Regions from separate parts of the Homo sapiens genome. Here regions 1, 3, 4 and 5 are each linked to region 2. The links come from fine-mapping of genetic effects on gene expression. A gene starts in region 2. Each other region holds a variant in brackets. All regions are shown on one strand. Distances are from middle to middle. Region 1 has its middle 25 kb from the start of NEDD4. Region 2 holds the start of NEDD4 (NEDD4 E3 ubiquitin protein ligase). Region 3 overlaps NEDD4 (NEDD4 E3 ubiquitin protein ligase). Region 4 overlaps PYGO1 (pygopus family PHD finger 1). Region 5 overlaps NEDD4 (NEDD4 E3 ubiquitin protein ligase).

Region 1 (6,338 bases), 25 kb before region 2:
CAGTTGAGGTCAGGAGTTTGAGACCAGCATAGCCAATATGGTAAAACCCCATCTCTACTAAAAATACAAAAGTCAGCCAGGTATGGTGGCACATGCCTGTAATCCCAGCTACTCAGTAGGGTGAGGCAAGAGAATCACTTGAACCTGGGAGGCAGAGGTTGCACTCCAGCCTGAGCAACAGAGGGAGATTCCATCTCAAAAAAAAGAAAAAACAAAACAAAACATGGAAAAAGAATCAATATTGTTAAAATGGCCATGCTGCCAAAGGAATCTACATATTCAACACTATTCTTATCAAACTACCAATGTCATCTTTCACAGAACTAGAAAAAAACTATTCTAAAATTCATATGGAACCAAAAAAGAGTCTGAATAGCCAAAGCAATTCCAAGCAAAAACAACAAAGCCAGAGGCATCACATTACCTGACTTCAAGCTATACTACAAGGCTACAACAAAAACAGACACATAGATAAATGGAACAGAATACAGAATCCAGAAGTGAAGCTGCACACCTACAGCCATCTGATCTCGACGAAGGTGACAAAAATAAGCAATGGAAAAAGGACTTACTATTCAATAAATGGTGCTGGGATAACTGCCTAGCAATATGCAGAAGAATGAAATTCAACCCCTACATTTCACCTATCTTATTACAAGATGGATTAAGATTTAAATTTAAGACCTCAAACTATAAGACTACTAGAAGAAAACCTAGGAAACACCATTAGGGACATTGGCCTTGGGAAATAATTTATGACTAAGTCCTCAAAAGCAATTGCAACGAAAACAAAAATTGTCAAGTGGGACCTAATTAAACTAAAGAGCTTCCACACAGCAAGATAAATTATTAACAAATTATATGGACAACCTACAGAATGGAAGAAAACATTTGCAAACTACACATCTGACAAAGGTCTAATATCCAGAATCTATAAGTAACTTAAACAATTGAACAAGCAAAAACAAATAACCCCATTAAAAACGGAGAAAAGACATGAACAGACACTTCTCCAAAAAGAAAAAAAAAAAACACAAGCAGCCAACAAATACATGAAAAAAATGCTCCATATCACTAATCATTAGAGAAAGGCAAATCAAATCACAATAAAATACCATATCATACCAGTCAGAATAGCTATTCTTAAAAAGTCAAAAAATAACAGATGCTGACAAGGCTGCAGAGAAAAGGGAGCATGTATACACTGTTGATGAGAATGTAAATTAGTTCAGCCAGTGTGCAAAGCAGTTTGGAGATTTCTCAAAAAACTGAAAACAAAAGTACCATTTGACCCAGCAATCCCATTACTGGGTATCTATCTAAAAGAAAATAAATCATTCTACCAAAAGACATATGCATCTATATGTTCATCGCAGCACTATTCACAATAACAAAGACATGGGATCAACCTAGGTGCCCATCAGTGGTGGACGGGATAAAGAAAATGTGGTACATACACAACAGAAACATTACGGAGTCATAAAAAAAAATGAAATCATGTCCTTTGCAGCAGCATGGATGTAGCCATTATCCTAAGTGAATTAACGCAGGAACAGAAAGCCAAATACCGCGTTCTCACTTATAAGTGTGAGCCAAATATTGGGTACTCATGGACACACAGATGGCAACAATACAAACAGGACTACTTGGGGTGGGAGTGGACAATGGTTGAAAAACTAAATTATTTTTTAAAGAATGTTCATTTTTCATTTCACGGAATTCTAAAAATGTGCCAGGTATAATTAACAGCTGTTAATTAGATTCAACTGTGCTCCTTTTCCTTTCTTTTGATTACAGCGCCCCTCTTCGCAGTAAGGAGTCTGTTCATGCAGTTCAGGTGGGGCTAACACGCTTGCACCTGCCCTAGATGAGGGAATGGGTACAAGAAAGCCCAATCAGACTATTCTCTTAGATTAAATACATAGAGCTTGGGAGATAAAGGGTTTATCTTATGGGCTTGGGGGTAAACTAAGAATTACATAGACTTGGGACTACTGGTAGCTGTTGTGCTGCTGAGTAGAGAGAACCTCTTCAAGAACAAAGCCATGAAGAGACAACAGAGGGATGGAAAAAAGAGAGACCTGAAACTCTCAGATCTAGTCATTCCTGGAATCAGATTTACCTCCTTGGACTTTCCAGGTATATCCAGCAACATACAATTGATTCTTATTGTATTAGTCAGGGTTCTCCAGGGGGACAGAACTAATAGGATGGATGTAGATGTATACATGAAAGGGAGTTTCTTAAGGAGAATTGACTCACACGATCACAATGCGAAGTCCATGATAGGCTGTCTCCAAGCTGAGAAAGAAGGAAGCCAGTAGTGGCTCAGTCCGAGTCCAAAAGTCTCAAAAGTAGGGAAACTGACAGTGCAGCCGACAGAGCCCCCGGCAAAACGCTGGTGTAAGTCCAAGAGTCCCCGAAGAACCTGGAGTCTGATGTCCAACGGCAGGAAGCATCCAGCATGGGAAAAAGATGAAAGTTAGAAAACTCAGCAAGCCAGCTTATCCCACCTTCCTCTGCTTGCTTCGTTCTAGCCTCTCTGGCAGCCAATTGGATGGTGCCCACCCACATGGAGGGTGGGTCTTCCTCTCCCAGTCCGCTGACTCAAATGTTAATCTCCTCTGGCAACACCCTCACAGACACACCCAGAAACAATACTTTACCAGTTATGTAGGCATCCTTCAATCAAGTTGACCCCTAATATTAACCACCACACTCATTATTCATGGATTCTGTATTTGCAAATTTACTTACCTACTAAAGCGTATTTGTAACCCCCAGATTAATACTCTTGAAACTATAAGGGAGTTTTAAACCTTCCCCCTACTTTCTGAAGGTTTGATAATTTGAGTCTCTGGAATAAACTGACAGCATACAGATTAACAAGAGAAAAGGCATACAGTTTTATTATGTGCATGCACGTGGGAGCCTCACAAATTATAAGATTCAAAGAAGGGGTAGATGGTCAAAGTTTTTATAGCATCCTGAGCTATAGAAGGAAATAGGGGCTTGAGGCTTCTGTGGGGAGGTGGTGACAGGTTATGAGAGGGTGAGAGGAGGAAATTTATAGTGAACAAAGTTGTCTTGTTATACAGAGAAAATATCTCAAGTAGCAACCCTCAGAACAGTTGGGCTGGGGGCAGTGGCTCATGTCTGTAATCCCAGCATTTGGGGCTGAGGCAGCCAGATCGCTTGAGGTCAGAAGTTTGAGATCAGCTTGGGCAACATGGAAAAACCCCACATGCCTACAAAAAAAGAAAAAAAAAATAGCTGGGTGTGGAGGCACATGCCATGGTCCCAGCTACTCAAGAGGCTGAGGCAGGAGGACCCCTTCAGCGTGGGAGCTCAAGGCTGCAGTAAGCCACAATAGTGCCACTGCACTCCAGCCTGGGTGATAGGAATGAGACCCTATCTCAAAAAAAAAAAAAAAAAAA[T/AAT]ACAGGAAGAAGAAGAATAGGTGGCAACTTTTGACAAAGTCTATCTGGGCAAGGTACCAACCTTTAGTCTCCTCTCCTGTGATATAATTAATCTTCCCTAGCTAATGAGATTGCAGAGAGGGGACAAATGAGTCCCTTTTGGAGGATCCATTTTTAGGCAAGTAAGGGAAATTCAGAGAGAGCTCCCTCTTGCTCTTCAGGAGAGAAGGACAAGAGACAAGAGCACAGGAGAAAGTCAGTGAGACCTTGGTTCAACTTCAGTTCAAAGCACTCAGCATGCCACAGTGCCATACTATGGGGTATTGTTTTCTGAGCCCCAACAGTGCTTTCACAATCATTCACTGACATGTATGTACAGAGTAGTGAAAAATTTGAGTCACCTGATGTGCATGTTTCCAGCTGAGGTTCAACAAGACGTCTGCTGTCTTGCTTCACCTCTCACACTGTAAACAAATGTCCTTTTTGCAATCTATTTAGTGCCACGTTTTTCACATTTTGTGCTTTTCGTTGTTTTCACTGTTTAAAATGGCCCTGGAGCTTAGTGCTAAAGTGCTGTTTTGGTTAGCGTTCCTGAATACTAGGCTGAGATGTGCCTTACAGAGAAAATATATGGGTTAGATAAGCTTTGTTCAGGCATGAGTTAGCATGTTGGTAGTTCAGTGTTAATGAATCAACAATACGCATTAAATGAGATGTCTTTAAGCCAAAACACACATAAAACAAGGTTATGTATTGATCCATTGATGAGAATATTGTGACCGGAGGCTCCCTGGAACCTAACCTTTTAAGTCTTCTGGGAGTAATGGTTCAGTATTCACTAATGCAGTGTTTATGGCAACTTGATAGAACATAACTACTGCACGTAATGAAAACTGACTGTATTCTCCTTTTGCTTAAGTTAGTTTGAGTTGGAAGAAGAGGCACATAATGTAGTAAGGGGCTGAGGGAAGGCTTTATGAAAGAAATGACTTTTAAGTGAGTAGCATTTTACCAGGAAAGAGAGTGGGAGAAGAGAATTCCAGGCTAAGAAAATAGTCTGAACAAAGATCTTAGGGTGACAAGGAGCAAGGCATGTTTGATGATCCAAAAGAAAGCCAGTGCAGTTGGACCACAAAAATCAAGGGAATAATAATGTGAGAATTTAAAGAAGGTAGAAAAAATATATATATAGTGGATATTCTTGGTGCCTACCTGTAATCAATTTCCCACACCTTCCTTCTCATAGATCCCCAATTTTGTTCTGGTATCCATCCTTATCCAACCTTTGGGATTAGGGAAAGCTAACACCATCCTCAGCTCACAAAGTAAGGACTGGTTAAGGTAAACTAACCATGTAATCTCATCCCTGGCCAGCAAATGGTTTAGGAATGGGAATGTACCTCAGTGTTGGCCAATAAAATTTGAGCTACTAATAGCTTTTGGGAAAGTTCTTTATATTTGAGTGATAATAATGGAAAGTAGATCTCACTGTTCCATATTGAATGTAAGCAAAGAAACCTGTTGCTTAATTTGTGTCCTTGAGGGAAGCCAGCCTGAGAACAAAACCTACACGTGGAGAATGGACTCGCAAACACTGCAAGAAAATCAGGCTAGAACTTTGATTATGTTGAAACTGCCTTTGCAAAATTATGACAGTAAGAGAAATCTGACATAGTTGATTCCATCTTGCTTCTGACCTCCAAGCTATCCTCGGTCTTTCCTGGGTGTGGGCCAAGCTAACCATGGGGAGAATTTAGTTTATAGTTTAACCTTAAAGCAGGGATAATAACAGCCCTTCCCAAAACTAAACTGCATCTGTAAAACGAATAAAAAGCCACAAGCTTCGGATTATGAGAGGGTGCTGAACTCTGCTAAAATGTAGGCATAGTTTCTAATCCCTTACTGCTCAGGAGTCATGTGACCAGAGGTCACAAGATTTGTGACCTTCCCAATTGCTCCTATATAACATCACTATTACAGAACCTATAATTAGTTTGAGATGTTTTTCAGATGGACTCCACCTGAACTCATGACTCAATGAATCCTGTGGCCCCACCCAGAGGCAGACTCAGCCCATGAGGACTATTTTCCACACCCCTACGATTTCATCCCCAACCAATCAGCAGCACCTACTCCCTAAAAACTCCCAACCTCCAAATCTTCAGAGACTGATTTGAGCCCAGTTCTCCCTCATGGGCTTGCCTCATGTCAATTAAACTCTTTCTCTACTGCAGTGCTGCCATCTCAGTGGATTGATTTTGTCTGTGCAGTGGAGAGGAAGAACCTGTCCGGCAATGACTATATGGTACCTGAAGTCTGCATATATCAAGACATTTGGTTATATAAGCCACCTTCACTGTTTAAGGAGTGGAGTTGGTTTTCTGTTAATTGAGGTGGAAAGCCTCTTAACTAAAACAATAGGTGTCCAGGTTCAGTCCCCTAAGTGATACATCTAAGATGAATGCAACTGGATGGCGGATTGGGAGCTCTGGTGAGCAAGTTATTGAAGCCACCTGATATGGCTTGGCTGTGTCCCCACCCAAGTCTCAACTTGAATTGTATCTCCCAGAATTCCCATGTGTTGTGGGAGGGACCCAGGGGAAGGTAACTTAATCATGGGGGCTGGTCTTTCCCATGCTATTCTCATGATAGTGAATAAGTCTCATGAGATATGATGGGTTTATCAGGGGTTTCCGCTTTTGCTTTTTCATCATTTTTTCTCTTTTCACTGCCATGTAAGAAGTGCCTTTCACCTCCCACCATGATTCTGAGGCCTCCCCAGCCATTTGGAATTGTAAGTCCAATTAAACATCTTTTTCTTTCCAGTCTAGGGTATGTCTTATAAGCAGCATGAAAGTGGACTAATACAGTAAATTGGGACCAGTAGTGTGTGGCATTGCTGAAAAGACACCTAAAAATGTG
Region 2 (6,338 bases):
CAGAAACTTAGTTCATTTCAGAAAATCAAATAAACATTTCTTGCACTACTGAGCTCTGGATCTGAGATGGGCTCTATGAAGAAAGTAGCTGAAACTATGGTAATGGCAATGGCAATGGATGAGGTCCAGGGAGTTTCCAGTGGAAGAAAAAATGAACCTTAAAAATCTCAAACATTAACTATTAGAAAGGAAGCAGCCAGGGGATATTAAGAGTAAGAGAGAATTAAAGGAGAACTTCTGAACAAGACTTTTTTATATCCCTTAGGGAATTAATTACCAACATTAAAGTGCATTTCGTATCATTACCTTTCATATTGTTACATTCCACATCCAATTTTGATCCCAGGGGGTGATATTTTAAAAACTAGAAACAATTTCTGCATCACAGTGAAATCTATAGGCAGAGTTAAAGAGGTTTACGTATACAGACTACTAGAAAGTCTAGACCAGGTTTACTGGTTTTCATTCATTTCTTGCTTCTTAATCAGTTTGGAGGCTCATGTAAAGGCAGATTTGAAGGGAGAAAAGACTCAAGAACAAGAGATAGAAGGGGTGATGCTATTGGAGGTTGCTAGAATTGCCTGGATTTTGGCTTGGGATGATCCCTAGCACAGGTATGAGGCACAGAATCAATTGTTATGCACCATGTCACATTCTTCACACGTGCCTCACATGGTTATACACACACTCAAACCAAATCAACATGAACCTAATTGAAGGCAGCCTAGGTAGACAAAACGCCTTCATGAGAGTTCTGCGCAGTTGAGTGATATGTAGAGGAGTTCTTCATTCTAAACAGCTTTCTCAGTGGTGGTTGGTTATTGGACCACCAGCTGATATCACCATCCCGATTTGAGCTTCCTTTAATTTCAGGTGCCCCTCCTAGCTGTTGACCGGGATACAATAATTACTCTAGTTCATCTTGTATTGGTAGCTGTTTAATTCTTCATGATTTCATATTCGGAAAGACAGAATAAGAAATCATGAGTCAAATCAGTGGTCTTTAGAAGTATCATCACTAATACCTATTGGATACATCAAATGGCCAATTTGCTTTACTTTATAATCCCTTGGGGATTTACTGATTTTTTTTTTTTTAATTACCAGTTTTAGGCTGTGTATACTTCTCATATATTCATTAAATTTTAGTAGCAGTAACGGAAGCTGTTTTTACACGTTTGTAATTGTGCCCTGAAATGACACTGAATTAACTTAAATTCAAATGACTTAACTAACTTAAAATTAAACATAAAAATGTGTATCATGAGAGATGAGGGAAATATTCGCAAAATAGAAGGGCACACAATATTTTCAGATTATTTTATTCTTAACCCACAAATCCCACAGATATGTGACAACTTAAAAAACAAATTAATGCTCTCATGGCTTTTTCGATTTAGGTAAGCCAACAATTCCTGACCATTCTGTAATTTTGTAGTCATGTTTGATTAAGTGCCATCTCTTTCCCCCTAATACGGATAAAATCTGAATTGTGTATTAACAGAATTTTGATACATATTATATGAATGAAATGGATCCTACCAATCATAAAGTACGACAATTGAGGTGGAGTCTTGTTCTGTCGCCCAGGCTGGAGTGCAACGGCGCAATCTTGGCTCACTGTAACCTCCTCCTCCCAAGCTCAAGCGATTCCCTTGCCTCAGCCACCCAAGCAGCTGGGACTCCAGGCGCCCGCCACCACGCCCAGCTAATTTTTGTGTTTTTAGTAGAGACAGGGTTTTACTATGTTGGCCAGGTTGGGCTCGAACTCCTGACCTAAGGTGATTCACCGCCTTAGGTTTCCCAAAGTGCTGGGATTACAGGCGTGAGCCACCGCGCCCGGCCAAGTACGAGAAAAATCTTACGTAACAAACCAGTAATATGGGCTATAGCCTTGTTCCCACGTAGCATCTTAAACTGTTAAAAATAAATCAGAGTTATTCTGAAATCATTGAGGAAAATAAAAATTAGATTTTGAGATTGCAGAATTCTGCAAATTTCTGCAAATGTATAAAAACAACATGATATAAATTGTGGCCTGGGTGTTCATAATTCTCCCCAGACTCTTTTATGGATGCCTTATTTGGTGGAGGTCTTCCTGTAATTATGGAATTATAAAGCCCATCAGACAGGAATATTAAAAAGCATGATTATTCCATAACCTTATTCCACAGGAGGAGTTATTCCACAGGAGGAGTTATTCTACAGGAGGTCCTAGTTCACTTTATTTTTCCCTCTTCGTCACTGCCTTCTGGTGGTGCTGCGGATCAACGCCCAGCTAAAGCAGGTTTAGAGGGTCAGCCTGGAGATTGGATTGTTACTGGTGGGATTTAAAGATGGACAGACCATAGGACAACAAATAGCTTAGGAACTGGCACTGTTTACAAATCCTAGGGAGAGAATTTCAGATCCCGAGTCCAAGACTGCTGCGATCCCTCCAGGCCTCCCCATTTGCTGCCACGCTCAGGCTTTCCCTGGCGGTCCCCAGGTCCAGCTTCTTATGGGAATGACACCCTTAACCGACAAGAAAGCGCTATGATTTTCCGTTTGGGATTTAAGCGGGGATTAAGCTCACGGATTCCCAGGCGTCTAGTCAGAGGCCGAACTCTGGGTCGGATCTCAGCGAGACTTGTTGCTGAGGAACACTGCAGCTTGGCTTCCCGGCGCTTCCCGGCGCTCCCTGGCTCCCCGGCGGGCCCGTCAACCACCCACCTCCCGGGAAGGGACCGAGGGCGCGCCCCGCCACGCGCGCTCCCCACGCCATGGTCCCCGCCGCGCGCGCTCATCCCACCCGAGCCCCGCCGCACGCCCTCCCCACTCCCCGAGCCCCGCCACGCGCGCCCCCGCCCAGCCCCAGGAGCGCGCGCCGCCGGCCTTTTCCCGCCGCGCTGCCGGGTGCCGCTAGTGCCCGCTCGCCGCGGGAGGCGCTGCTGTCGCTGAGGGAGCGCCTCCTCCTCTTCCTCCAACTCTTCCCCGCCTCCTCCCGCTTCTCCTCCTCCTCCTCCACAGTTGCCTGCCCTGGGCGGGGGCGAGCGCGTCCGGTTTGCTGGAAGCGTTCGGAAATGGCAACTTGCGCGGTGGAGGTGTTCGGGCTCCTGGAGGACGAGGTGCGGGGACCGCGGGGCTGCGGGGCGGGCTTCCCTTCGGGTTATTCAGCAGCCGGACCCGGGGAGGTAGCGGCGGCGGCCACGACCGGAGGCTCTGCTGTCAGCCCCTCCTCCCTCGGCGCGAGCCTGGGGAGCGCGCGAGGCGCCGCGGGGACTGTGGGGGCGGCTCGGCGCGCGGGCGCTGGGGGCTCGCTGGAGGGAGCAAGCTTGTCGGGTCCACACCCGCCCCTTCCCGGAGCGGCCGCCGCCTTACTTGTCAGTTTCCTTCAGGAAGTGTTGAGGAGGGGGCTAGGCGGTCGGCGGGGGACCCACATCACCGCGCCAGCCCCTTCCTGCCACCCCCGCCGGGTGTGCGGAGCTCCCAGGCGTTGGGAGACGGTCGCAGCATCCCCGCTGTTGATTTGCTTGCTCTGGCGGAGGCCGGGCCGACTTAACTTTACGGACTTCGGTCTGGAGAGTTCCAAGTGAATTGTCATTCGCTGGTTTGTTTTTTTCTTCTTTATCTGAAATCCTTTTTAATCCCCTAACTAGAGACAGGGATGGGAGAGCAGGAACATAAATTTTCCTCCTCCTCTTTAGCAACAAGTGTCTAGTGTGAGAAGTTCATGCTTTATTTCACCGGTCGTCGTTGATGTTAAAAAGTGAAGCCAAAAAAGTATAAATACTTTATAAAGAAGTTACCACATCTGTTCCCTTTGAAAACTAGATTAAGCTCTGGGATTTGAAGAAGGCAAAGCTGTTTCTTTTCAGCTAAATAACTAATGCTGATTATGCCTATGCTTATTAAAAATATTGTACGACCATTTGGAAAGGTTGTTCCGTCGTAAATGATATGTGGCTTCTGTGTGTTCTTGGAGATTGTCTCAAAAATGCAAATGGGTGGGAGATGAAAAGGCTGCATGTAGTCTAACAGTGACTGGTTCCGAGTGAAAAAAATCAAGTTTTTTGCTTTCTTGTTGGCTGACTAAGCTGCCACATGTACCTTTTATCAAGATGAGACCCAGTTAACTGAAAATCCATCAACCTAATTTATACTGCTTGCTTAAGTATTGTAATATTTAAGTTGTATAGTTCCTTCTCTTAGTACCTTGGTGTCGTCAAACATTTTACACTTCTCTTGAGAGTTCTTTGTTTATAAAGGGTGGGCAATTTGTTAATGCAGTTATTTCAGGATATTTTGAGAATGCTTACGTGATGCGATTAGAATTTAATTTCCTAGCTATTGCTGCCAGAAGAGAAATAAAGTGATGATGGACAAATGGTGGCGGCTCATAGTCCCTCAGAAACAATAGTCAATGTGTTACAGCTAAAGATATCATTCTAGCTAATGGCACCTTTATTCTGTAGACGAGATCAGAAGATAATACAGCACTTCACCTGTGGTCGCTTTCTTATCAGTCAGATTTCCCTGCTTGCTACGTAGACTGCCCAGTGCAGTTGACTTCAAGGTGGTGTCCAACCCAATCAGGCTGACCTTGGACTTTCTTTCCCTGCTATATTCACAGGTAGGCCCTGCTAATTGCAGATTTCTCATCTCACCGCCTTCCAGCAGAGCCAGTTGATCTTAAAGAAAATAGTGCCAAAGGTATCATTCACCATCTGTTTTCTCCCTCTTGGTACATGATCAGTGTTTTTAATTATCTACTTTAGTAATTTCTCTGTTTTCAATCATCACCCCTCTGCCCAGCTGAAATAAAACTAATTGTGGCAGTTAATGGGTGGTCGGTAAGGAACTGGGGCCAAAGGCCAGAAACTCCACCCTTTGAAATGTGGATTTCCTGAACTTGCTGAAGGATTTGTACTTCTAGGAAGTTTCATGGACTGTGGCCTATCCCATTCACATTCTGGGAGTTCTGGCTGTCAGTTCCATGACTCTAATTTGCTTCTGTCCCCGCTCTATTTTGTCCACATTGAGGAAGGGAGTGAGATAGGAAGATAAGAGACATGATGATGAAGAGTCTTCCACTTCTTCCATTGTAATTGGATTATTCATTCAACAGACATTCATTTACTGTTTGCTCTGTACCATGCATTGTGCTAGGCACCAGGGATAGAGAGGGAAAAAAGACAGTCTCAGCCTCGGACTGAGGGAAAGATAAAAGTCACTTTTTTTCTTGTGGAGGTTGCCCTCTCCACTATCATTTGCCATTTATTTTCTGGTCTATCACAAAAGTAAAAGAAGGATTGAAACCACACTCCCCCATCCTCCCCACCCCCAAACACCCCTTTTGTTAAAGGAAGAAAGCATTGCAGCTATGTCACTTCTAAAACTCACAGACTAGTCTGGAAATAGGCAGCCCTCTGCTGTTGATTAAAAGTAAAGTGCTTTTTCATTACAACAAAAGGAGAGGATTCTTATTTTAAATTTGAAACTAAAACAGGGAGAAAAATAATTTGAAATGGGATAGAAGATAGTGAAAGAATTGTAATTTAATCAGTATATAGTGAATAGTCGCTGAGTCAGTGTCTGAGCATATTAGCACTGAAGTATGCTAAAATGTAGATCATAATACCTTTCTCTCACTTTTCAGTGAGTTTTGGCTCTTCTTCCACATATAAGTGACTTATAGTAAGAGATCACCCTGGCTGCATGTGCAGGATTTTACCTTTAAAGTGTTAACAAACAAAGGAGGAAGTGTAGTATAATTTATACCAGATTTGCTCTGGTCACTTGAGATTCACAGTAGAGAATAACATGCACTGATCTTTATTGGAGAGCAGTGTGGTGGATGCGGGGACTGGAATTGAGCATCACTTCCCACCTCCTTCCCATGCACCTCCCTGTGATATGGAGGTGGGAAAACTAAACACTGTTTCCCACACTCCATTGAAATTAATGGACTGGATCCAAAGTAGGCTCCCCAGTTAAGTGCACTTACTTGAGATTTGCAGAGTGGAAATGAGGTGGAGCATATTGTTTTGTTTCTTTGGCTTTTTCTGCTGATAAGCACAGTCATGTAAACATCTAAATTTTCTGCGAAAGTATTCCAGTATCTGGTAACTTGCTTTGTACATATTGATAGGAAGTCACCGAAGTAGTGGTGGTAGTGGCTTCCAGACGTCAAGATTGATTATATTCTTGAAGTCATCAGTTCTGGTGATGACTCCTGATCATCTACCTTTCTGACTGGGAGAGGTAGTAGCTTCCTGGATGGGTCAGTTCTGCCATGTTTCTGATCTTCTAGAACTGCAGTCCCCAACTGTTTTGGCACCAGGGACCGGTTTCATGGA
Region 3 (6,338 bases), 50 kb after region 2:
TACAGCACACTGATGGGTCTTGACTCTTTATCTAATTCGCCAGTCTGTGTCTTTTAATGGGGGCATTTAGCCCATTTACATTTAAGGTTAATATTGTTATGTGTGAATTTGATCCTGTAATTATGATGTTCACTGGTTATTTTGCTCGTTAATTGATGGAGTTTCTTCATAGCATCGATGATCTTTATAATTTGGCATGGTTTTGCAGTGGCTGGTACTGGTTGTTCCCTTCCATGTTTAGTGCTTCCTTCATGAGCTCTTGTAAGGCAGGCCTGGTGGTGACAAAATCTCTCAGCTTGTCTATAAAGGGTTTTATTTCTCCTTTTCTTATGAAGCTTAGTTTGGCTGGATATGAAATTCTGCATTCAAAATTATTTTCTTTAAGAATGTTGAATATTGGCCCCCACTGTCTTCTGGCTTGTAAGGTTTCTGCTGAGAGATTTGCTGTTAGTCTAATGGGTTTCTCTTAGTGGGTAACCTCACCTTTCTCTGTGGCCGCCCTTAACATTTTTTCCTTCATTTCAACGTTGGTGAATCTGACAATTATGTGTCTTGGGGTTGCTCTTCTCGAGGAATATCTTTGTGGTGTTATCTGTATTTCCTGAATTTGAATGTTGTCATGCCTTGCTAGGTTGGGGAAGTTCTCCTTGATATTATCCTGTAGAGTGTTTTCCACCTTGGTTCCATTCTCCCTGTCACTTTCAGCTACACCAAACATAGAGTTGGTCTTTTCACATAGTCCCATATTTCTTGGAGGCTTTCTTTGCTTCTTTTTATTCTTTTTTCTCTAAACTTGTATTCTCACTTTATTTCATTAATTTCATCTTCAATCAGTGATAGCCTTTCTTCCACTTGATTGAATCAGCTACTGAAGCTTGTGCATGTATCACAAAGTTCTTGTGCCATGGTTTTCAGCTCCATCAGGTCATTTAAGGTCTTCTCTACACTATTTATTCTAGTTAGCCATTGGGCTAACCTTTTTTCAAGGTTTTTAGGTTCCTTGCAATGGGTTAGAACATGCTTCTTTAGCTTGGAGAAGTTTGTTTTTACCGACCTTCTGAAGCCTACTTCTGTCAACTCATCAAAGTCATTCTCCTTCCAGCTTTGTTCTGTTGCTGGCGAGGGGCTGCGATCCTTTGGAGGAGAAGATGCGCTCTGGTTTTTAGAATTTTCAGCTTTTCTGCTCTGGTTTCTCCCCATCTTGGTGGTTTTATCTACCTTTCATCTTTGACGTTCGTGACATACAGATGGGGTTTTGGTGTGTATGTCCTTTTTGTTGATGTTGATGCTATTCCTTTGTGTTTGTTAGTTTTCCGTCTAACACTCAGTTCCCTCAGCTGCACATCTGTTGGATTTTGCTGGAGGTCCACTCCAGACCCTGTTTGCTTGGGTATCACCAGTGGAGGCTGCAGAACAGCAAATATTGCAAAACAGCAAATATTGCTGCCTCATCCTTCCTCTGGAAGCTTTGTCCCAGAGGGGCACCTGCCTGTATGAGGTGTCTGTTGGCCCCTACTGGGAAGTGTCTCCCAGTTAGGCTACACGGGGGTCAGGGACCCACTTGAGGTGGCAGTCTCTTGTTATCAGAGCTCAAATCCCATGCTGGGAGAACCACTGCTCTCTTCAGAGCTGTCAGATAGGGACATTTAAGTCTGTAGAAGTTTCTGCTGCATTTTGTTCAGCTATGCCCTGCTCACAGAGGTTGAGTCTATATAGGCAGTAGGCCTTGATGAGCTGAGGTGGGCTCTGCCTAGTTTCAGCTTCCCGGCTGCTTTGTTTACCTACTCAAGCCTCAGCAATGGTGGACACCCCTTACCCCACCAGTCTGCAGACTGGCAGGTCGATCTCAGACTGCTGCGCTAGCAGTGAGCAAGGCTCTGTGGGCATGGTACCCGCCAATCCAGGCATGGGAGAGAATCTCCTGGTCTGCCAGTTGATAAGACCATGGGAAAAGCACAGTATTTGGCCAGAAGTGTCCTGTTTTTCCAGGTACAGTTTATCACAGCTTCTTTTGGCTAGGAAAGGGAAATCCCCTGACCCCTTGCACTTCCGAGGTGAGGCAATGCCCCATCCTGCTTCGGCTTGCCCTCTGTGGGCTGCACCCACTGTCCAGCCAGTCCAAATGAGATGAACCAGGCACCTCAGGTGGAAATGTAGAAATCACCCGTCTTCTGCGTCAATCATACCGGGAGCTGCAGACAGGAGCTGTTCCTATTTGGCCATCTTCCAATCATTACATCTTAAAGCTCCAAAATAATCTCCTTTGACTCTGTGTCTCACATCCAGGCCACACTGATGCAAGGGGTGGGTTCCGAAAGGCCTTGGGTGTCTCCACCCCTGTGTCTCTGCAAGGTACAATCCCTTCAGCTGCTTTCACAGGCTAGTGTTGAGTGCCTAAGGGTTTTGCAGGCAAACAGTGCAAGCGGTTAGTCAATCTCCCATTCTGGGGTCTGGACGATAGTGGCCTACTTCTCACAGCTCCACTAGGCAGTGTCCCAGTGGGAACCCTGTGTGGGGACTCCAGTCCCACATTTCCCATCCACACTGCCCTAATAGAAGTTCTCCATGAGGGCTCTGCCCCTGCAATATCCAGACTTCTGTGTGGATATCGACACATTTCCATACATCCTCTGAAATCTAGGAAGAGCTCCTAAGCCTCAGCTCTTGCCCTGTGCCCACCTGCAGGCTTAAAACCATGTGAAAGCCACCAAGACTTACGGTTTGAACCTTCTAGAGCAGCGGCCTGAGACATATCTGGGCCCTTTTACCCACAGCTGGAGCTGGAGTGGCTGGGACTCAGAGAGCAGTGTCCCAAGGTTGTGTAGGGCAGCAGGGCCCTGGGCCTGGTCTATGAAATCATTCTTCCCTTCTAGTCCTCTGGGGCTGTGATAGGAGGAGCTGCCACAAAGATCTCTAAAATGCATTCAAGGCATCTTCCCCATTGTCTTGGCTATGAACATTCAGCTCCAGCAGCTGGCTTGAATTCCTCCCCACAAAATGGGGCTTTCTTTTCTACCACATGATCAGGCTGCACATATTCCCAACTTTTATGCTCTGCTTTCCTTTTAAATATAAGTTCCAGTTTCAGATCATTTCTGTGAATGCATATAAGCATATGGTTAGAAGCAGCCAGGCCACTTCTTGAACACTTTGCTGCTTAGAAATTTCTTCTGCCAGATACCGTAAATCATCTCTTTCAA[G/T]TTCAAAGTTCCACAGATTTCTAGAGCAGGGGCACAATGCTGCCAGTCTCTTTGTAGAAGCATAGCAAGAGGGACCTTTATTTCAGTTCCCAAAAGATTCCTTGTCTTCGAGACCACCTCAGCCTGGACTTTCCTGTTCATATCACTATCAGCATTTTGGTCACAACCATTCAACAAGTCTCTAGGAAATTCTATCTTTCCATCATCCTCCTTTCTTCTTCTGATCTCTCCAAACTGTTTCAACCTCTGTCCATTACCCACTTCTAAACTTGCTTCCACATTTTCAGGTATCTGTATAGCAATGCCTGACTTCCCATTACCAATTTTCTGTATTAGTTTGTTCTTGCATTGCTATAAAGAACTCCCTGAGACTGAGCAGTTTATAAAGAAAACGGCTGTAATTGACTCACAGTTCCACAGGCTGTACAGGAAGCCTGGATGAGGGGGCCTCAGGAAACTTAACAATTGTGACAGAAGGTGAAGGGGAAGCAGGCTCATCTAACATGGCCAGAGAAGGAGGAGGAGAATGAAGGGGGAAGTACTACACACTTTTAAGCAACCAAATCTCATAAGAAGTCGCTTACTATCACCAGAGCAGCAAGGGGGAAGTCTGCCTCCGTGATCCGGTCACCTCCCATCTGGCCCCTCCTCCAACATTAGGGATTACAATTTGACATGAGATTTTGGCAGAGACATAATTCCAAACCATATGAGATACCATACAAACACCAGAAAAAATATGTTAATGGTTGTATTAACATTAGCCAAATTAGACTTCAGGACAGTATTGCCAGAGATAAAGAGGGCATTTCATGATTATAAAGAGTGAATTCAACAAGAAGACATACAATCTGAAATGTGTATGGACCTAGTAATCTTTAAAATTACGAAGTCAAAATTGACAGAACTAAATAAATAAACAAATCCACAATAGTTGATTTTACCACTTCTAGTAACTGATACAACAACTAGACAAAAAAAAAATAGTAAATATATAGATGATTTGAACAACACTACCAATCATGTTAACCTGTTTGACATGTATAGTACACTACAGCTAATACCCAAGTGTATATTCTTTTTATATGCCCATGGAACATTTACCAAGATAGACCACATATTGGGCCACAAACCGAGTTTCAGTACAGTTAAAAGGATTGAAATTCAACAGGATTGGCTGGGCGCAATGGCTCACGCCTATAATCCTCGCACTTTGGGAAGCCGATGCAGGCATATCACTTGAGGTCAGGAATTTGAGACAAGCCTGACCAATATGATGAAACCCCGCCTCTACTAAAGAAAAAAAGTATACAAAAAGTAGCTGGGTGTGATGGTGCGCACCTGTAATACCAGCTACTTGGGAGACTGGGCACGAGAATCGCTTGAACCTGGGAGGCGGAGGTTGCAGTGAGCTGAAATTGTGCTGCTGGACTCCAGCCTGGGTGACAGAGTGAGACTCTGTCTCAAAAAAAAAAAAAAAGAAATTTAACAGGGTATGTTCTCTGATCACAGCAGATTTAAGTTACAATTCAGTAACACACGTATGTATATCACAAATGTTTAGAAATTAAACAAGTTTCTTTTGAATAAGCCATGGATCAAAAAAGAAAATAAAAGGGAAATTAACAAGCATTTTTACTGATTGATTGTTAAAGCATAACATACCAAATGTGGGATGAAGCTATTTCAGTGCTTAGAGATTAATTTATACCTTTAAATACTTGTATATAAATGAAGAAATATTCAAAATCAATGATCTAAGCTTCCACCTTAAGTTCTTTAAAGAAAAAGAAGGAAGGAAATAAGAGTGGAAATCAATGGACAAGAAAATGGACAAAAAGTAGAGAAAATAAATAAAACCAAGGATGGATCTTCAAAAAAATTAATGAAATTGATATACAACAGCTGGCCTTATATGAGAGAGACAGAGAGAGTACTCAGATGACCAATATTAGGAATCAGAGGAGGGAACCTACAGATACTTTTTAAAAGGTAATATTGTAACTAATTTTATGCCTGTAATTTTAACAACTCAGTTTAAATGGATAAATTCTTATAAGCCAAAATATACTAAAACCAATATAAGTAGAAACAGAAAATATGGATATCTGTTAGAGGAATTAATGTTATAATTTATTTTTTATTTTAAAAAATTTAAGGTGCTTATAATTTAAAAATATTGCCATTCTTTTTGATGATCTTATTCTTTTATTAGAAAGAATGTTTGGCCTGGCATGGTGGCTCATGCCTATAATACCAGCACTTCGAGAGGCCAGGGTGGGCCCCCTAAAAGTTTAAGGTCATCCTGAGCAAAATAGTGGGACCCCATCTCTACCAAAAAAAAACGACCCTCTTCACAAGGCATGGTGGCACACACCTATAGACCCAGCTACTTTGGAGGCTGACATGGGAGACAATTCTTTGAGCCAAGGAATTCGAGGATACCGTGGGCAACATAGTGAGACAGTCCCAAAAGAAAGAGACAGAGAGAGGCAGAGAGGCAGAGAGAGAGAGAGAGAGAGAGAGAGAAGGGGGAGGAGGGAAGGAGGAAGGAGGGAGAGAGGGAGGAAGGACTACTTTGGAATTAGAGATGTTAATGAGAAAAATAAGCCATTTAAACAAAATTTTAACTGATTTATTGGGGGTATAGTTCATATAGAAAAAGCCTGCACATATTTAATTCATACAGTTTGATAGGTTTAAACATATGCATACAGCTGTGAAACCATCACCACAATCAAAGTCATAAACATATCCATCACCTCCAAAAGTTTCCTCCTATCACCCCCTTTTTTGTGGTAAGAACACTTGATATGTACCCTCTTCACAAAGGTTTTGGTGTATAATATAGTATTAAACCACCATTCTATTCTCTGCTTCTATGAATTTGACTATTTTAGATACTTTTTGTGAGTAAGATAGTCAGTATTTGTTCTTCTGGGACTAGCTTATTTCACCTAGGGTAGTGTCCTCAAGGTTCATCCATTTTGTTGGAAATGGCAGGGTTTCCTTTTTGAAGGCTGAATAATATTCTATTGTATGTATATGTCACATTTTCTTAATGTATCCTTCAATGGGTATTTAGATTATTTCCATATCTTGGCTACTGTGAATAATGCTGTAATGAACGTGGGAGGG
Region 4 (5,000 bases), 420 kb after region 2:
TGTGTTCCATGGTGAATGTGTGTGTTTTTATGCCCGTATTACTGTAGCTTTGTCATATAGTATGAAATCAGGAAGTGATTTTTTGTTCACTTGTTTGTCAAGATTGCTTAGGCTATTCAGAATCTTTAGTGGTTCCATATGAATTTTAGGATTTTTTTTCTTTTTCTGTGGAAGATGCCCTTGGAATTTTGATGGAGATTATATTGAATCTGTAGATAAAAACTCCCTAAAAACCCTATTGAGGGACACAGAGGAAGACTTCTAATAAATGGAATAGTATTCCCTGTTGTGGCTAGCCATCTGGAACAAAATAACATTGTTTTTTACCTCACATTATCCCAAAATAAATTCCAAATGGAGTAAAGATATGACATAAAAATATGGCCATATTACGAAAAAATAGCTTGATGGTTCCTCAAAAAATTGAAAATAGGATGTATTAGTCTAGTCACAGAAAGACGAATACTGGATGATTTTCACGCTGCTGATAAAGACATACCCAAGACTGGATGATTTATAGATAAAAAGAGGTTTAATGGACTTACAGTTCCATGTGGCTGGAGAGGCCCCACAATCACGGTGGAAAGCAAGGTGGAGCAAGTCACATCTCACGTGGATGGTGGCAGGCAAAGAGAGAGCGTGTGCAGGGAAACCCCTGTTTGTAAAACCGTCAGATCTCGTGAGACTTATTCACTATCATAAAACCAGCATAGGAAAGACCTGCCCCCATGATTCAGTTACCTCCTACCAGATCCCTCCCACAACACATGGGAATTCAAGATGAGATTTGGGTAGGGACACAGCCATACCATATCATAGGATAAACTCTCCAACAATTTCACTTCTGTGTATATATCCGAAATAGTTGAGAATAGAGTCTCAAAGAGGTATTATAACATGTATGTTCTTAGCAGCATTAGTCACAGTAGCTAAAAGGTAGAAACAACCGAGGTATGCATCTACAGATAAATGGATAAACAGAATGTAGTATGTGTATACTATACATGGAATATTATTCAGCCACAAAAAGGAAGGAAATTCTGACACATGCTATAGAACCTTGAGGACATTATGCTTAATGAAATAAGTCAGTCACAGAAAGACAAGTACTGGATGATTCTACTTGTGTAAAATATCTAGAGTAGTCAAATTCATAAAAGCTAAAAGTAGATGAGGATCATAGGGGATGGAGAAGGGGAAAATGGGGAGTTGTTGCTTGATGGATATAGTTTCAGTTTTACAAGATGAAAACATTCTGGAGGTTGGTTATGCAGTAATGTGAATATACTTAATACCACTGAACTGTATACTTTAAGATGGTAAATTATATATGTGTTTTACTACAATTAAAAGTTAAAATTAAAAAATTAAGCCATAAAAATATTAGGAAAAAAACCTGAGAGAATTATGTTTTATTCTCTAAAAATGGGGATTGCTCTTTTAAGCATAAGACAAAGCCCAGAATTAAAAAATAAAATATTGATGCATTTTATTACATAAAATTATTTTTTAAAATTCTGGATAGCATTATAGAGGAAACTGGGTACAGGGTATGTGCAAATTCTCTTTACTATCTTCACATTTTTATAAATGTAAAAATCTAAAATTTAAAATGTATTTAAAATTTTATAACAAGAAATCAAAACATAATAACCTGATGAAAGTATTTACAGTTTAAATATGTTCAGTTTTTTTTTTTAGTATATGAAAAGCTTCCATAAATCACTAAGAAAAGGATGAAACACTCAGTAGAAAAATGGCAAGGAATATTAGCTCCCAAGTGATTCCAACATGCAGCCAAGATTGAAAATGACTAGTTTAGATATTTTTGATAAATCAGAGTAAAATTTGAAAAAATTTTTCTTAAAAACAAAAGCAGGCTTCTTTTTCCCCAAGATGGCAGATTAGAGGCTTTTGGCATGCCTCAGCCACCTGGAAATAGCAAGATAGTACATAAAGATCAACTCTGTGAGCTTTAATTCAAAAAGGAAAATGAGTATCCAATGGAATTGTGAAGGACACCCTCAATCCCAGAGAGGAGAACACTGGCAAACAGCCCCCATGATGGCATCCAGTTGATAAAAGTGAGTGAGGCCTAAGTATGTGAAAGAGGTAGAGAGCCCCTCTCTCTGACTGACCTTTCCACTGGGGATCTGAGCAACTCAGGTAGAGGGAAAGCCCTTTGTTTCTCCCAAGCCCTGGAGCTAACATGGGGAAAATCTTGGAGACACTGTGAGGGAAAGACACTGGGAAAAGCTGCAGGTATTTTCCAAGACCCTGAGAGCAGGATGCCATTTTAAATCTGGTTGTGTACAAAATCAGGAATTCCTTGGTGACCTGGCAGTGCAGCTATATAGGCATTTTAGTCTCAGGCTAGAGATTGGAGTGCCTGCTGTGGAGTGGTAGATATGTCTATAGGACCCCAATGGCAGGCACAGCCACCATCCATCAACCACAGAATATACATTCTTCTCATCTGCACATGAACATACTCTAAGATTGACCACATGCTTGGCTGTAAAGCAAGTCTCAATAAATTCAAAAAAATTGAAATCCTACCAACAGTACTTTTGGACCACGGTGGAATAAACATAGAAGTACCAAGAAGATCTCTCAAA[A/G]TCACACAATTGCATGGAAGTTAAACAACTTGCTCTTGAATGACTTTTGGGTAATGAAATGACATCTGGGTAATGAAATCAAGGCAGAAATTTAAAAAATTCTTTGAAATAAATGAAAACAGAGGCACAACATACCAAAATATCTGGGATGCAGTGGCAACAGTATTAAAAGGAGCATATGTAGCACTGAACATCACCTCAAAAAGTTAGAAAGATCTCAAATTAATGATCTAACATCACACCTAGAAGAACTAGAAAAACAAGAACAAACTAATCTCAAGGCTAGCAGAAGAAATGAAATAACTAAATCAGAGCTGAATATAACAAATTGAGACACCAAAATCCATACAAAGTATCAATGAAACAAACAAACACCCTAGGATCAAATGAATTTATAGCTGAATTCTACTAGAAATTCAAAAAGAGAAGAGCTGGTACCAATTCTACTATTCTAAAAAATTGAGGAGGAACTCCTTCCTTACTCATTCTATAAAGTAGAATGAGTCCCATCATCCCAATACCAAAACCTGGCAAGGACACAATGAAAAAAAAAAGAAAGCTATAGGCCAGTATCCCTGATGAACATAGATGTAAACATACTTAACAAAATACTAGCAAACCAAATTCAATAGCACATCAAAAAGTTAATTCACCATGATTAAGTAGGTTTCAGTCCTGGGGTGCAAGGTTGGTTCAACATAAGCAAATCAATAAGTGTGATTCACCACATAAACAGAATTAAACATAAAAATCATATAATCATCTTAATAGACATGAAAAAAGCTTTTGATAAAATCTAACATCCTATCACGATAAAAACCCTCAGCAAACTAGGCATCGAACGAACATACTTCCAAATAATAAGAGCCCTCTATGACAAACCCAGAGCCAGCATCATACTGTATAGGCAGAAACTGGATGCAGTACCCTGAGAACTGGAACAAGACAAGCATACCCACTCTCATGACTCCTATTCAGTACAGTACTGGAAGTGTTAGAGCACTCAGGCAAGAGAAAGAAAAGGCATCCAAATAGGAAAAGAAGACAAACTATTTCTCTTTGCTGACAATATGATTCTATACTTACAACACCCTAAGGACTCCACCAAAAGGCTATTAGAATTTATAAACAATTTTAGCAAGGTTTCAAGATACAAAATCAACGTTCAAAAACTGGTACCATTTCAATATACCAGTAATATACAAGCTGAGAGCCACATCAAGAAAGCAATCCCATTTACAGACACACACACACACACACACACACACACACACACACACACACAGTACCTAGGAAATACGTCTTAACCATTGAGGTGAAACATCTCTACAAGGAGAACTAAAAAACACTGATAAAATAAATCATAGATGACACAAACAAATGGAAAAACATTCTATGCTCATGAATTGAAGGAATCAATCTCATTAAAATAGCCACACTGCTCAAAGCAGTCTACACATTGAACACTATTTCTATCAAACTACAATGGAATTTTTCACAGAATTGGAAAAAACTGTGTTAAAATTCATACGGAACCAAAAAAGAGCCCAAATAGCCAAATCAATCCTAAGCAAAAAGAACAAAGTTGGAGGCATCACATTACTTTACTTCAAATATAAGGCAGCAGTATCAAAAACAGCATGGTACTGGTACGAAAACAATTTAGACCAATAGAATGGAGAACCTAGAAATAAAGCCACATACTTGTAGCCATCTGATATTTGACAAAATTGAGAAAAACAAGCAATGGTGAAAGGCCCAGTAAATGGCGCTGGGATAGCTGGCTATCCATATGTAGAAGAATGAAAATGGACCCATACCTATCACCATGTACAAAAATTAAGATGGATTATAGATTTAAATCTAAGGCCTCAAACTATAAGAATCCAAGAATACCCAGGAAACACCATTCTGGACAACAGTCTTGCAAAAGAATATATGACTAAGTCTTGAAAGCAATTGCAACAAAAACAAAAATTGACAAGTAGGATCTAATTAAACTAGAGAGTTTCTGCATAGCAAAAGAAACAACAGAGTAAACAGACAACCTACAGAAGGGAGAATATATTCACAAACTGTGCATCTGACAAAGGTCTAATATCCAGAATTTATAAGGAATTTAAACCATTGAACAAGCCAAAAACAAACAACCCCATTAAAAATGGGCAAAAGGAGTTTGAGACCAGCTTGGGCAACAAAGGGAGACCCTGTCTCTACAAAAAATAAAGAAATTAGCCAGGTATGGTGGCACATGCTTGTGGTCCCAGACACGTGGGCAGCTGAGGTAGGAGAATCTCTTGAGCCCAGGAGTTTGAGGCTGCAGTTAGCTGTCTTCACACCACTGCACCCAGCCTGAGTGATAGAGCCAGACCCTGTCTCAAA
Region 5 (6,338 bases), 120 kb after region 2:
TTAGGTCTGTGTGTTTCATGTTATAAACTTTCCCCAAATATTTAGTAGTCCATAACTGCCCATAATGTATAATATTCCAATATTTATTGGAAGGGTTTTGTTCATGGGCATCTACTGACTAGTGGACTTCACTTTGGGGTGAGCAGAGAGAATTAGTCATTTTATTGGAAGACTTCCTGGATTTAATATCTATAAGTCTGTCTCATTGGGTTGCTTAGTTGTTCCAGAGAGGAATTTTCTTTCCTGGGAAGTATATATTTGTCTGCCAGTATTCTAGAAGCCAAGTGAAACAAAGGAGTTGGAGAGGTCCTTATTGTTTGGTATTAGGACTTTCACTCATTCTCTCACTTATCTCTCTGCTGTCATCTACTCTTCCAGTCTCCCTTTTTTCTTTCTTTTACTGTTCATGTAAATTAAATCGGACAGCATGTACTCTTTTGTATCTTCTTTTTATAATTAAACTTTTCTGGCCAGGCACTGTGGCTCATGCCTATAATCCCAGCACTTTGGGAGTCCAAGTCAGGTGGATCACCTGGGGTCAGTAGTTTGAGACTAGCCTGGCCAACATGGTAAAACCTGTCTTTACTAATAACACAAAAAAATTAGCTGGTTGTGGTGGCACATGCCTGTAATCTCAGCTACTTGCGAGGCTGAGGCAGAAGAATCGCTTGAACGAGGGAGGCGGAGGTTGCAGTGAGTCGAGATCGCGCCATTGCACCCCAGCCTGGGCGACAAGAGCGAAACTCCGTCTCAAAAAAACAAAACAAACAAACAAAAAAACCACTTTTCTTTGAGATTTATATATGTTATTTTGTATATCCGTTCATTTCATTTCATCGCTGAGTAATTCTACTAGTTGTATATCCCACAGTTTTATTTTTCAAAGGACATTTATTTCCAGTTTAGGCTATTATGAATGAAATTCTGTGAACATTCTTGAAGAAGTATTTTAGAGGATATTTGTTTTTATTCTCTTAAGAAAATACAAGGAGCAGAATTTCTTGGTCATATACTGGTATATGTTTAACTTTATAAGAGAGTTTTGATTGCACCACACCCTGACCAATATTTGTTTTTGTCAGACTTTTTTTATTTTAGCTATTCCAGGGGGTTTGAAGTAGTACTGCATTGTGATTTTAATTTGCATTTCCCTGATGATTAATAGTGATAAGCATATTTTCATATAATATTTACCATTTATTTATCTTCTTGTTTGAAATATCTGTTCAAGTCTTATGCCCATTTTAATGGGACAGTTTTTCTGTTTATTATTGATTCATATTATTGACTTATAGTAATATTTTATGAATTGATCTCTTTATTATTATGAAATGTTTCTTTTTATTTGTGGTAATACTCATCATCATGAAATCTAATTTGTCTGATATTATTATAGCCACTTATACTTACTGTATACCTGATTATTTTTTCCATACCTTTATCTTCAATTTATCTGTATATTTGAATTCAAAGTTCATCTCTTGAGCCTGAAAGTAATAAGCACCTTGAACCCGGATCTTTATATCTAAATATGATTCTCCAGTAAAATTTATCAGGGTTCTCTGGACAAGTGGCTGATTGATTGTAGAGCAGGGATAAGAAGAGTATATGCTGAACCTGAATCATTTTTGTGGTGCCAAAAAGTAAGGAAGTACACAAAAAAATTGAGAAGATATCAGAAATGCACAAAAACTAACCTGAAGTGACTCTCAATGACCATATCTGGGACAATTTGAGTAAAAAAATAAGTAACAATAATGGATTATATCTTATAAGATAATATAAAACAAATATCAATGAGTCTATGATGATATAAATTAGAATGTATAAATGGGAGGAAGGGGAAAATTCTTTGCTTAAGCAGAATAATAATTAATTAATATAAAAAGAATAATGGAAATGGTAGAAATAGAAAGTCAACATTTGGCAAGCACCACAGTAATAATTGTTGCAGGCAAGAATCATCAATGGATGCTAAAGTTTGTGAGAAAAAGTTTGATGAGAAATGGGCTATTTACATAACCTCAAAGGCTTTTCCCACAAGATACTGTTAATTACAAAGGGGAAAATATTGAGAAACATGGAAGACAGCACCTTAACCAAATGATTGAAGTTAATACCATTAGTAATGCAACAAATCAGTATCGTGTGCCTCCTGATATGATGCACTGAGAAGGGCACAAGCATCACCTTTATGGTATTCTTGCAAAAAATGCATAATCTAAATTCAACCATGAAGAAATATTAGAAGGATGTTCTATGACTAGTCAGTACTGCTCAAAAATGTCAAGATTATGAAAGACAAAGAAAGACTAAGGTACTTTCCAGATTTAAAGAAATTAAATAGACAGGACTACTAAATGCAATATATGAGTCTGAATTGGACCCTGGACTAAAATTAGGCAGACAGTTGGTGAATTTTGAGTCAAGTCTGTAGAGTAGTTAATAGTATTTCTGGTTTTGATCATCATAATATGGTTATTTAAGATGTTAACATTTGGTGGATCTGGGTGAAAAGTATATGAGGATTCTCTCGCAGTATTTTTGCAATTTTTTTAAATCTGAAATTCTTTTAAAATGAGAAGTTGGCTGGGCACAGTGGCTCACACCTGTAATCCCAGCACTTTGAAACACCAAGGCAGGAGACTCGCTTGAGCCCAGGAGTTTGAGACCATCCTGCGTAAGATGGCAAGACTCCATCTCTTTAAAAAAAAAGAAAAAAGAAAAAAAAAGTGAAAAAAAAAGAAAAACATTTAATAAAATATTTTTAAACAATAATGATAGATGTCTTTTATAGGCAACATATGGTTAGATTTTGCATTTTTATTCAGCTTGACAATCTCTGTCTTTAATTGGACTAGTTTGTCATAATTTATATGGCTGGATTTAGCTCTCAGAATGTGCAGTTTATTTCTGTTCCTCTCATCTGTTTCTTTGTTTCTCTTTTCCTGCCTTATTTTGGGTTAGTCAGATATTTCCAATATTCCATTTTAACTCTTCTCTGTGCTTTTTAGCTCTGCAGTCAATTAATGATTAACTTATGTCAATCATACCACTTTATATAAAATATAAGTCTTGCAACAATATAGATTTGATTATTCCACCTATCTTGTGCACAATGTTGTCATTTTTATTACATCTACATATATTTTAAACCCATAGTATAGCGATACAATTTTTTTTTTGTATACAACAATTTGTTCTTTAAAAGATTGAGAAGGTACCTTAAAAAAAAAAAACTTTACCCACATATTTACCATTTTCTGGTGCTCTTTATTACTCTCTTTAGATCTGAATTTCTATCTGGTGCCACTTATCCTCAGCCTGAAGAACTTCCTATAGCATATTCTGTAGTGCCAACAATTTGTCTGCTGATGACAAATTATCTCTACTTTATCCGAAAGTATCTTTATTTTCCTTCCCTTTTTTATGGATAGTTTTTGCTAGATACAGAATTCTTGGTACATTTTCCATTTCAGCACTTATAGATATCATTCAGTTGTCTTCTGGCTTCCATTGTTTTTGACGAGAAGTCAACCATTATTTGTATTCTTATTCTCCTGTGTGTAATGTATTTTAGGCTGCTTTCAAGATTTTCTGTTTATCTTTTGTTTTCAGCGTTTAATA[A/G]TGGTGTGCCTACCCATGTTTTCTTTATGTTTATCCTGCTTCAGTTCACTGACTTTATTGACTGTCTCAGCTTGTGTTTTTCTAAATGTGTGAATATTTTGGCTGTTTTTTTCCCCAAATATTTTTCTGCCCTATTACCTATCCCCTTTTATGGAACTCCAGTTACACATACGTCAGACTGCTTGAAATTTTTCCACAAGTTCCCTTTATTTTTCATATTAGATAAATTCTGTCTCTATATCTTCAAGTTCATACTTTTCTCCAGTCATCTTCAATTGTCTTTTAAACCCATTTATTGAATTTTTTTATTTCATGTATTATATTTTTCAGTTCTAAAATGTACATCTGGCCGGCCGTGGTGGCTAACACCTGTAATCCCAGCACTTTGGGAGGCTGAGGCAGGCGGATCACCTGAGGTCAGGAGTTTGAGACCAGACTGGTCAACATGGTGAAACCCTGTCTCTACTAAAAATACAAAAATCAGCCAGGCATGGTAGTGCATGGTGCATGCCTGTAATCCCAGCTACCTGTGTGGCTAAGACAAGACAAATCACTTGAACCCAGGAAGTAGAGGTTGCAGTTAGCTGTGATTGCACCACTGCACTCCAGCTAGGGTGACAGAGCAAGACTCTGTCTCAAAAATAAAATTAAATAAAATAAAATGTGCATTTGATTCATTTTTAGTTTCCCCTTCACTGCTGAGGTTCCCCATCTTTTCATTCATTATGACCTTATTTTTCTTTTAAGTCCTTTGAACATCTTTATAATAGCTGCTTTATTTTCCTTGTCTGCTTATTCCATGATCTGCGTCATCTTGTGGCTGGTTTCTGTTAATTACTTTTTCTCTTCCTACTGGGTTTTTTTTTTTATTTCTTTGCATGTCTAGTAATTTTTTTATTGTGGGCTGGACAATGAATATAGTAACTAATAGAGACAGTGAATTTTATTATATTTCCCTGAGGAGAGTTGATTTCCTTTTTTTTTTTCTTTTTGAGCGGAGTCTTACTCTGTCACCCAAGCTGGAGTGCAGTGGCATGGTCCAGGCTCACTGCAACGTCTGCCTCCTGGATTTAAGCCACTCTCCTGCCTCAGCCTCCCAAGTAGCTGGGATTACAGGCATGTGCCACCACACCTGGCTAATTTTTGTATTTTTCGTAGAGATGAGGTTTCACCGTGTTGGTCAGGCTGGTCTCTAACTCCTGACCTCAGGTGATCCGCCCACCTCGGCCTCCCAAAGTGCTGGGATTACAGGTGTAAGCCTCCATGCCCAGTGTTGATTTTTGTTCTAGCAAGTTAACATAGCTGAACTCCAAATTCTGCTTCCCTTTTGGTGAACATCAGCTGAAATCAGTGCTGAGCCCTCTCAGTCTTCCATCTGTTGATTTTCACTTGTTCAGTTCAGAGTAAAACTAGGGATTTAGGTAAGAGTTTATATATAGATTTGGAAGAACTCTGGTGGCTTCTTTTTTTCTGGGACGTTTCTCCTCTTTTTCTAGATATGCTGTCAACCCCAAACTAGGCCTTCTGACTCCTCAAGCCAGTAATAGTGCAGATTTCAGCTTAAGTTCTAGGCTCTCTGCATTATGTGGACTGTAGAATACTACTAGAGGAAAAGCCATATAAATACTGAATCTTACCTAGTGTAGTTCCTTCTTTGAAGGATTGACATCCCTCCAGTTTCTGCTTGTTTGGGGTCATTCTGTTGTACTTTCAAATAGCTCTTTTAGTATTTTGTCACAGAATATAATTGTTATCTGCAGAAGGATTAATCTAATATATGCTACTCTGCCATTACCAGAAGTTGTACCACATTACTTTTTATTTTCCATTGATGCTGCATATGACTGAATAAAAAAAAAACTCTACATTTTCTGTGAATGGTGGCACTATCTCATCAAACTCTTCTAAAGGAATTGAGCGTATTACTAATTATATTTTTTCTTCCTTCTCTTATAGACAAGAGATGATTTCCTAGGTCAAGTGGATGTTCCACTTTATCCATTACCGGTTGGTATAGGTGTCCATGATTTTCCTTTTGGGCTTATTTTTTTAATTTAATAAATACTTACATATATAATATAGCTACTGTAAATAATTGATTTATCAAATGTATACTACTTTTATTTATTGAGCATACTGTTTTCTAAAAACTCATTTCAATTTTCCGTTTCCATTTTCTCTTTAAGATTTCCGTTCATGAACCCCAGTGAGAAATAGAGAATTTCTGATGTTTGTTGGCATTGTGAAAACATTGTGTAAAAAAGATTAGTTTGAAAATATTCTGCTGAATAACTAGAATGAGGAGTGCCTAAGCTCACAGAAGAAAACTAAGATAGTTTACGACAATGGAAACATAAAACACTAAGAATCAGGACTAAGAATATAGCAAGGAGAAAAACAGATTCAGGAAACATTGCAAAATAGAACATTATTGAATCACATGTCTGACATGGAGGCTTAAGAAAATAAGCAAGAAGTAAAGATAATACAAGTTGAACTTGGAAGATAAGAGTGGCGTCTCTTGTAGAAAAGTGAGGAAGAAAAGCCATTTTGTTTTGAAAAGCAAAAAATTTATTTTTGGACAAACAGAGTTTTGATAGGAAACAAAGAAAATGAAAGTTTAAAGTAGACTGCTGACAGAGAGATAAAAATCAGCTAGGTAGGGAAAAGGGACTGGAAGGATTGAGTGTTATCACTGTCCAGATAACAGC

The links.
Region 1: its variant is fine-mapped to the expression of NEDD4 in prefrontal cortex (CommonMind, PIP 0.95).
Region 3: its variant is fine-mapped to the expression of NEDD4 in thyroid (GTEx, PIP above 0.99). The same link has a PIP of 0.9 or more in whole blood.
Region 4: its variant is fine-mapped to the expression of NEDD4 in lymphoblastoid cells (GTEx, PIP 0.98).
Region 5: its variant is fine-mapped to the expression of NEDD4 in whole blood (TOPMed, PIP above 0.99). The same link has a PIP of 0.9 or more in neutrophils.

Annotation. Positions count from the first base shown.
Region 1 is chr15:56,015,493-56,021,830 of GRCh38, reverse strand. No RefSeq gene overlaps it. Among named protein-coding and RNA genes, the nearest start is that of NEDD4, 25 kb to the right of the region's middle. The variant T/AAT (reference allele first, on the strand shown) is at 3,438.
Region 2 is chr15:55,990,280-55,996,617 of GRCh38, reverse strand. NEDD4 (NEDD4 E3 ubiquitin protein ligase) reads left to right here and starts at 3,006. Exons shown (of 29, transcript NM_006154.4): 1 at 3,006-3,107. The coding sequence starts at 3,063. RefSeq lists silencers at 1,800-1,997, 2,784-2,883, 3,124-3,473 and an enhancer at 2,976-3,758.
Region 3 is chr15:55,939,910-55,946,247 of GRCh38, reverse strand. All of the region lies in intron 4 of NEDD4 (NEDD4 E3 ubiquitin protein ligase), which reads left to right. Among named protein-coding and RNA genes, the nearest start is that of NEDD4, 51 kb to the left of the region's middle. The variant G/T (reference allele first, on the strand shown) is at 3,201.
Region 4 is chr15:55,567,224-55,572,223 of GRCh38, reverse strand. All of the region lies in intron 1 of PYGO1 (pygopus family PHD finger 1), which reads left to right. Among named protein-coding and RNA genes, the nearest start is that of PYGO1, 19 kb to the left of the region's middle. The variant A/G (reference allele first, on the strand shown) is at 2,619.
Region 5 is chr15:55,873,254-55,879,591 of GRCh38, reverse strand. NEDD4 (NEDD4 E3 ubiquitin protein ligase) reads left to right here. Exons shown (of 29, transcript NM_006154.4): 6 at 5,584-5,634. Among named protein-coding and RNA genes, the nearest start is that of NEDD4, 120 kb to the left of the region's middle. The variant A/G (reference allele first, on the strand shown) is at 3,628.